Linked DNA regions of Homo sapiens. The protein of the gene in region 2 interacts with the protein of the main gene of each other region in a pairwise test. Each region holds a gene or a part of one and is shown on either strand. Other genes may lie near its edges.

Evidence for each region.
Region 1: the proteins of RNF170 (region 2) and PSMA6 interact in binary tests that used the Homo sapiens proteins (3 or more experiments, as listed by UniProt).

The regions. Positions count from the first base shown.
Region 1 is NC_000014.9:35,302,382-35,305,881, reverse strand, and holds part of PSMA6 (proteasome subunit alpha type-6), read right to left. Parts: intron 1-3,500. UniProt on the Homo sapiens protein: Component of the 20S core proteasome complex involved in the proteolytic degradation of most intracellular proteins. This complex plays numerous essential roles within the cell by associating with different regulatory particles.
Region 2 is NC_000008.11:42,857,510-42,863,108, forward strand, and holds part of RNF170 (E3 ubiquitin-protein ligase RNF170), read right to left. Parts: intron 4,347-5,599; coding exon 4,236-4,346; intron 1-4,235. UniProt on the Homo sapiens protein: E3 ubiquitin-protein ligase that plays an essential role in stimulus-induced inositol 1,4,5-trisphosphate receptor type 1 (ITPR1) ubiquitination and degradation via the endoplasmic reticulum-associated degradation (ERAD) pathway.

The sequences.
Region 1 (3,500 bases), on a different chromosome or scaffold from region 2:
CAAACTCTGGCTCAAGTGATCCTCCCACCTTAGGATTACAGGCATGAGCCACTGTTCCTGGCCTGGGCACATATTTTGTAATCAGGGGAAAAGCAACAAAAATCAATACATGCTCATGGTAGAAAATATGAAAACACAGAAGATAACTTTTAAATAATTATTCATAATCCCAATCATTATTTACATTTTGACATATAACAGATTATTTCAAAATTCTGTCTTCGAGTGTCACTCTGGGCACTGAGTCTGAGCCAAGGCCTCATCTGTTCAAAAAGCCACAGGTGATGACGACCAGCTAAGAAAGCTACTGCCTATCAGGCTAAAGAATCTCTTTTAATAGAAACTGTAATAAATCATCAAATATTTCTAAATGGCTAACTATTTAAGAGAGAACAAAAGAACAGAGCAAAAATGATTCTAGAAAAATCACCTTAAAGGAAATCCTCAGCTGGGTGCAGTGGCTCACATCTGTAATCCTAGCAATTTGGGAAGCCAAGGTGGGAGGACTGCTTGAGCCCCGGAGTCCCAGGCCAGCCTGGGCAACATGGCAAGACCCTGTCTCTACAAAAAAATGTTAGCTAGGCATGGTGGTACACCTGTGGTCCCAGTTCCTTGGGAGGCTGAGGCAAGAGGATCACTTGAGCCCAGGAGGTCGAGGCTGCAGTGAGCCGTGCTCACACCACCGTACTCCAGCCTGGGCAACAGAGCAAGACCCCATTTCAAAAAAAAAAAAAAGAAACAAAAGAAAAGAAATCTTCAAATATGGCTTGGATTTAACTGGTTTTATCATTATTATCATTATTGAGCAAGAGACAGCATCTTGCTCTGTCACCCAGGCTGAGTGCAGTGGCACAATCATAGCTCACCACAGCCTCAAACTTCTGATTCAGACCCTCCCACTTCAGTCTCCTGAGCAGCTGAGACTACAGGTGGGTATCACCATGCCTAATTTAAAACAATTTTTTAGAGATGGGGTCTCACTACATTGCTCAGGCTGGTCTCAAACTCTTGGCCTCAAATGATCCTCTTGCCTCGGCTTCTGGAGTAGCTGGGATTACAGCAGGTATGAGCCATAACCCCCAATTTAATTGGTTAATTATAATAGCAAAATTTTACCATCCCATTACACTACAAATAACTTTTTTTTTTTTTTTTGAGATGGAGTTTCACTCTGTCGCCCAGGTTGGAGTGCAGTGGTGCAATCTTGGCTTACTGCAACCCCTGCCTCCTGGGTTGGAGCAATTCTGCCTGAGCCTCCCGAGTAGCTGGGATTACAGGTGTGCACAACCACGCCCAGCTAATTTTTGTATTTTTAGTAGAGACGAGGTTTCGCCATGTTGGCCAGGCTGGTCTTGAACTCCTGACCTCAGGTAGTACACCCACCTCGGCCTCCCAGATGCTGGGATTACAGGTGTGAGCGACCGCGCTCAGCCTACACTACAAATAACTTCTAAAATGTAGCTGGTGCCTCGCTATTTGTGGGGATTGGTTCTAGGACCTCCCATGGATTCCAAAATCCACAGAAACTCAAGTCTCTGATATAAAATGGCACAGTATTTGCACATCGCCTATGTATATCCTCCTGTATACTTGAAATTATCCCTAGCTTGGCCAGGCGTGGTGGCTGACACCTGTAATCCCAGCACTTTGGGAGGCAGAGACAGGCAGATCACCTGAAGTCAGGAGTTCAAGACCATCCTGGCCGACATGGTGAAACCGCATCTCTATTAAAAATACAAAAATTAGCCAGACATGGTGGCAGGTGCCTGTAATCCCAGCTACTCAGGAGGCTGAGGCAGGAAAATCGCTGGAACCTGGGAGGTGGAGGTTGCAGTGAGCTGAGATTGCACCACTACACTCCAGCCTGGGCTACAGAGCGAGACTCCGTCTAAAAAAAAAAGAAAGAAATTATCTCTAGCTTACACTACACGAGCTAATACAATGAGTGAGACTCCGTTTAAAAAAAAAAAAAGAAAGAAATTATCTCTAGCTTACACTACACTAGCTAATACAATGTAAATGCTAAATAGTTGTTATACTACATTGTTTAGCGAATAATGACAAGAAAAAAATCTGTACATGTTCAGTACAGGAGCAATTTTTTCCCTGAATATTTATGATCTGCAGCTGGTTGAATCCATGGATGATGAACCCATGAATATGGGTTGAATATGGAGGACTAGCTGTACAACTTTCAAAGTGCTTCTTGATTCTGATCCTGATATGGCTAATAAAGCTTCTATCAGATCAGCCCTCCACAAATAAAAAGTACTAACTCTAAACAAAACAACAACTACCTAAAGACACCACAAAGTCAGATTCTAGAGGGGAAGTCAACAGTTGGGAGAAAGGAATGGCATGAGTTGAGTTTCCCATTTTTGTGGCTCATAATCTGAGAGCAGTAAAGGCTGAACTCCCACAGAAAACTCAGTCTTTTTGGCCTGAAGAACTAGAGAACAGTTTGGGGTAACAATAGCTGCCAGAAAACAAGGGAGAGAAACCAGAGCACTAGAGAGTGAGAGTCCCAACTTCTATATATAAACACTGCCCAAATCTCTAGCAGATTCCATAACAACACACACAAGGCAGACTCCAAGCGGCCTAGTTAAGGATAAAAGAAACCGAGTGAGATTTAAGATGCCACCCAAGAGACAGACTTTGTAGCTTGAGAATAACCAAATTAACTGCCTATTAGAACAAAACAAGTCAATACTCTTTGGAGAAATATAACAGAATCCACAGTCTTCATAAAATAACATTCATAAATGTCCAGGATACAATCCGGAACTCTCAATATACCAAAAAACAAATCAAGTCAAACTAAAAAACCAAAACCAAAACCAAACAACAAAAACCAGGAATATTGTGTTTAATTCTCAAAAAGAACAATCCTGAGACGACCCAGATGTTGCTGTATTAGCAAAGAATTAAAAACAACCATTATAACTATGCTCAATGACATGATGGAAAATGTTCTCAAAATGAAAAATGATAGGAAATCTCAGCAAAGAAAAAATGAAAGAAGCAAAAGGAAATTGTAGAACTGAAAAATATAATACGTAAAATTTAAAAATTCACCAAATGGACGTAACTGTAGAATGGAGATGAGAAAGGAAAGAGTGAGTGAATATGAAAATGTATCAAATGATCCAATCTTAAAAAGGCAGAAAAAATAGTTGAAAAAAACAACGAATCTGTGGGTCTACATCAAAATGTGTAAGATATGTACAACTGGAGTCCTATATGGAGAGCAAAGAATCGGAAAACAAAATCTGAAGAAATAATGGCTAAAAATGTTAAAAATATGGCAAAAGACAAAAAAATTTCAGATTAAAGAACCTCAGAAAACTCCAAGCAAAATGAAAACAGAAAATCACATATAGATTCATTATGGTCCAATGTCTGAAAACCAAAAATAGAAAAAATTTTGAAAACAGAGAAAAACAAATGAAAAACATAAAGAAACTATGACATAATAAGTGTGTGTTGTTTAAACACCA
Region 2 (5,599 bases):
TCATTTATACAAAATCTTTAATAATTAGACCAGAAATAATGAAATGGTTTAGTAAGAAATGTTTCTGCATAAACTTACTCCAACTTTGAAGGAGGCAGAATATTAAAGAGCTAAATGCCTTTTTTATATTATAATTTCATCACATACCAGGCTTTCTTACTCATTAAATATCTGACACAAAAAATAATAATTGAGTAATAGTATGCTTCACATTTTAAAAATAATGAAGGAAAAATTCTAAAGGCTGGATGCAGTGGCTCACACTGGTAATCCCAGCACTTTGGGAGGCCAAGGTGAGCAGATCGCTTGAAGCCAAGAGTTTTGAGATCAGCCTGGAAAGCAGGGTGAAACCCCGTCTCTACTAAAAATACAAAAATTAGCTGGGCATGGTGGCACACACCTGTAATCCCAGCTAGTCAGGTGGCTGAAATATGAGAACTGTTTGAACCCAGGAGACAGAGGTTGCAGTGAGCCGAGATCGCGCCATTGCATTCTGGCCTGGGCGACAGAGCGAGACTCTGTCTCAAAAAGAAAAGAAATGAAAAGAAAAATGTTAAATGACTTTATTAAAGTTTAGTGGTAGCTCTTAAATTTGAAACAGGTTGCATTTTTAAAGAACCATCCTACTGATGTCACCGGAGGATATGTAAAAAAAAAATTGCTGGGTCAAAATTGCAGAAGAGGCTCCCAAATAATTATGGAGGACAACATGATTGGATTAAGTTTTTTTTTTTCCTGCTCAATGAAAAATGGGTAAATCTACCCATTATCATCCATAACAGTTGAAATCTATGCCCTGAAATGTACACGACCTCACAGAACAAGGAACAATGGAGCATGAGCACATGTCTGTTTAACACTGAAGCATCTGAATAGCTTAATATATTCGGCTGGGAGCAGCAGTATCAATTCTTATCTTAACAGTAATTCATTTATTCAACACACATTAAGGCACCAAATTTGGCACTGTTGGAAACTCGGCAGTGGTAAATAAATAAAAATGGTCCTTACCCTTATGAAGCTTTTAGTTTACTGAGAGAAAGATAATGAACAAGAATTGAGTGCTGTCTATGATAAACGCCATGAAGGAAAGGTACAGAGGGCGCCACAGAGCAGGGAAAACTTCTCCAAGGAGGGTCTACTTAAGATAGTTGTCATTTAAAGACTGGGAAATCACCATAAGAGCAGAAGGACAAGCATTCCATGCAGAGGAAGTGTCAGGTGTGACAGCCTTAAGGTGGAAGGAGTTTGTGTGTGTGCTGAGAGCATAGAGCAGGGTGGCTGCAGGGTGGTGATTGAGGCGGTTAACAGAAATTTGGAGAGGGAGGGAGGACCAGATCATGTGGCGCCCTGTAAGCCACAGTAAGGAGTTGGAACATTCAAAGACATTGGGCCACAAGTGGTGGCTCATGCCTGTAATCCCACCACTTTGGGAGGCCGAGGTGGGAGGACCACTTGAGCCCAGGAGTTTGAGAACAGCCTGGCCAACATGGCGAAACCCCATCTCTACAAAAAATATAAAAATTAGCCGGGTTGTGGTGGCATGCACCTGTAGTCCCATCTACTTGGGAGGCTGAGGTGGGAGGAAGGCTTGAGCCCAGGAGGCAAACGTTGCAGCGAGCCAAGATTGCACCACCGCACTCGAGCCTGTCTCAAAACAAACAAACAAAATAGAAGTTTTCAAACACAAGAGCATCATGGTCTCATTTATGTCTAGAAAACATGTATCAGGCTGCTGTGGCAGGGAAAAAAGTAGAAGTGAGGAGGCCACTGTGGTTGCCGTGAGCAGAGATGACAGGGCTGGACCAGCACAATGTCTACAGTGATTGAAAGAAGTGGACACAGGCTGGGCACGGTGGCTCACACCTGTAATCCCAGCACTTTGGCAGTCTGAGGGGGTGGATTGCTTGAGCCCAGGAGTTCAAGGCCAGCCTGGGCAGCATGGCAAAACCCAGTCTCTATAAAAAATTAGCCGGGTGTGGTGATGCACCCCTGTGGTCCCAGCTACTTGGGAGGCTGAGGCGGCAGGATGGCCTGAGCTTGGAAGGTTGAGGCTGCAGTGAGCCGTGATCACACCACTGCACTCCAGCCTGGGAAAGAGTGAGAATCTGTCTCAAACAACAACAACAACACAGCCAAGACATTTTTGTTCTTTTTGAGACAAGGTCTCACTCGATCACCCAGGCTGGAGTGCAGTGATGTGATCCTGGCTCATTGCAACCTCTGCCTCCCGGGCTCAAGCAGTCCTCCCACCTCAGCCTCCCAAGTAGCTGAAACTACAGGTGCACACCACCGTGCCTGACTAATTTTTGTATTTTTTGGTAGAGACAAAGTCTTGCTAAGTTGCCCAGGCTGGTCTCAAACTCCTGAGCTCAAGTGATCTGCCTGCCTCAGTCTCCCAAAGTGCCAGGATTACAGGCATGAGCCACTGTGCCCAGCCAGCAAGAATATGTTGATGCAGTAAAAATAATAGGACACCCCAAAAATAGAAAGAAAAGGTAGGATTACTTATAGACCAGATGAGAGGAATGAAGAAGAGGAGGAAATCAAAACTGAGAAAAGAACAGACTATGTCAAGGAGGGAATCAGCTCAATACTCCACGTGTTAAGTTAGGGATGTCTGTGGAGCACCCACGCTGAAATGGAAGCGAAGCAGTTGGATCTACAGAGTCTGGAGCTCAGAGGAGAGGTCTGGGCTGTCCATATAAATTTGGATTTAGTACATTCTAGTTTTTGAAGTACTTATTCAGTTTTACATTTCTAAGAATGTGTTAGATTTTGATAAAACAAGAATGAGTCAGTAAAATGTGCTAGTTTTTGATTTATCAAATACTTCTAGGGTAAGGGGAAGAAAGGTTATCTGTACAGTGTTCTGCTTTTAAATAGCTAAGATGACATATAAACATATCCCTCCAAACTTTTTTTTTTCTGAGACGGGAGTCTCACTCTGTTGCCCAGGCTGGAGTGCAGTGGCGTGATCTCAGCTCACTGCAACCTCTGCCTCCCGGGTTCAAGTGATTCTCCTGCCTCAGCCTTCCAAGTAGCTGGGACTACAGGCACAAACCACCATACCCAGCTAATTTTTGTATTTTTAGTAGAGACAGGGTTTCACCATGTTGATCAGGCTGGTCTCAAACTCCCGAACTCAAATGATCTGCCCACCTCAGCCTCCCAAAGTGCTGGGATTACAGGTGTGAGCCACTGTGCCCGGCCTAAACCTGGAATTTTTTGGAGTTTCACTCTCGTCGCCCAGGCTGGAGTGCAGTGGCGTGATATCGGCTCACTGCAACCTCTGTCTGCCGGGTACAAGTGATTCTCCAGCCTCAGTCTCCCGAGTAGCTAGGATTACAGGTGCCTGCCACCACACTCAGCTAATTTTTGTATTTTTAGTAGAGACAGGGTTTCACCGTGTTGGCCAGGCTGGTCTCGAACTGCTGACCTCAGGTGATCCACCCGCCTCGGCCTCCCAAAGTGCTGGGATTACAGGCGTGAGCCACCGCCCCCAGCCAACCTGGAATTTTTTTAAGGGAACATTTCAAACAGGGCTAGGGCAAATAGAATAAACCACAACTGTGAAACTTAAAGTTTTCAGTTGTAACTTTTCTCAAAAGACAAATGGTGTTTTAGTATCACAAAGAAGTAAATAATTTTCTATTTCCCTCTAATTTTTTCTATTGCTTTTCTGCTAGTTTCTCTTTCATAAAAACTTTTATAATGCTGTTTGTTTTTTAAGAAAGAAAATTGTAGTCCTTGGGAAAGGTGTAATGTAGTGATTGGCAGCAATGAAGGTAAAAACTTGACCCAACACATATAATGAGATTTTTTTTTTTCTTTTTCTTTTCTTGTTTTTTGAGGAAGGGTCTCACTGCCACCCAGGTGGGAGTGCAATAGTGCGATCATGGCTCACTATAGCCTCAACCTCCTGGGCTCAGGTGATCCTCCCATTTCAGCCTCCCAAGAAGCAGGGACTACAGGCATGTGCCAACACTCTTGTCCAATTTTTTGGTGTTTTTTCTAGAGATGGGGTTTCATCATGTTTCCAAGGCTGGTCTCAAACTCCTGGGCTCAAGTGATCCACCTGCCTTGGCCTCCCAAAGTGCTAGGATTATAGGCGTTAGCTACTGTGCCTGGCCAAGATTTCTCATAGTCAAAGAATACTTGTTGGTAAACCTCACTTTACAAAAGAGAAGAAATGTGTCTTCCTCTAACTTTGAACATGCTTTAGCATTACTTACAGATCTGGGTTGCCCTGAGAATCTCCGGTTATAATCATTAATATCCTGATGCAATCTCAGAACATCCTGAGACTGATCATCTTCACCAAATACTGTTAGGAGTAAGGTTACCTGTATATTACAGAAAAAAAAATTATTTCAACTTTCTGCATCATTATGTTTTTTTCATTTTGTGTTATTATTCAATAGAATGATAAAGGCTTCTATATTTATATTTCACTCATTTTTAAATAAAGGCAACCTGGGGGAGGGGAGTAAGTAACTGCTTTGCAATAAAATCCAATGCAACATAGAATTTGAACTCCTATAAAATAGACACCATATCCAACTACTGGCCTAATATTTTCCTGTCCACACCAGGGGTAAATTCCTTAGTTCTCTATTTGGGCTAACAGATATTTGAAGATAAAAGAAGGATGAGGAAACATTCAGGAGGAAAGTGACATAAAATATATAACTGTCACTTTAAGACAGAAAAATTATGGTTTTCTTTTTCAGTATTAAAATAATGATTGGTTATTCTTACTGGTATTTGAAAGATCTTTGAATGCTACCAACCATAATATAAAGATTATGTTATTGCAGGGACCAGCTCTCAAACACCAATTCCTACTATAATAAAAAAAAGAAATTTTTGATATTGTCATATAACATAATACATTTAACCCTGCTTCCTTCATGGTTGTGGTAACAAGGATGTACAAATGTCCCAGGACCATACTGGGGTAATCTGACGGTGACAGTACCTTGAAAAATAAATACACTTTAGGACGTAGCACCCTTATAGAAAATGGTCACTAATGATTGTATGATGACATAAAAACGGGAAGGAGTGGTGGCCGATTTAGTTTTAAATCATTTAGTTGTTGTTTTGTCCTTCCTCAGTTCAGCTGTAAAACCAAGGCTTCCCACTGTTTAGATGCTTTCCAAACAGCTAAAAGAAGGCGTGACTAAGCACAGAAGGTGGTGAGAACAGCAGGTGCAGCCATCACTTCCTTCACAAATTTGTTAATAAAAATGCATTCTTTCAATACACATTAATGGAACACCTATGGCGGGCCAGGCACTCTGCTTAGTGCTAGGTATGCCAGAAAAATGAAGTCAAAAGCCTGCTCCAGGGTGACTACAACACCCACAAGGAAAGGGGAGGAAGACCTGGCCGACAGCCTTACATGGTCCTGGGGCAGGTGCAAGAATGCTGCTGTGAGAGCGAGGATCTCTTCTGCCTGGGGTGGTCAGAAAGCCTGATACTGAGCCAAACCTGGAAATGGTGGTAGGACTGTGGCTGGTGTGCACGCATTCAAGGGGAGAAGTGGTGAATGTGTTCCAGTCAGAGGCGGCAGCCTGTGTATTGCTATTTCCAT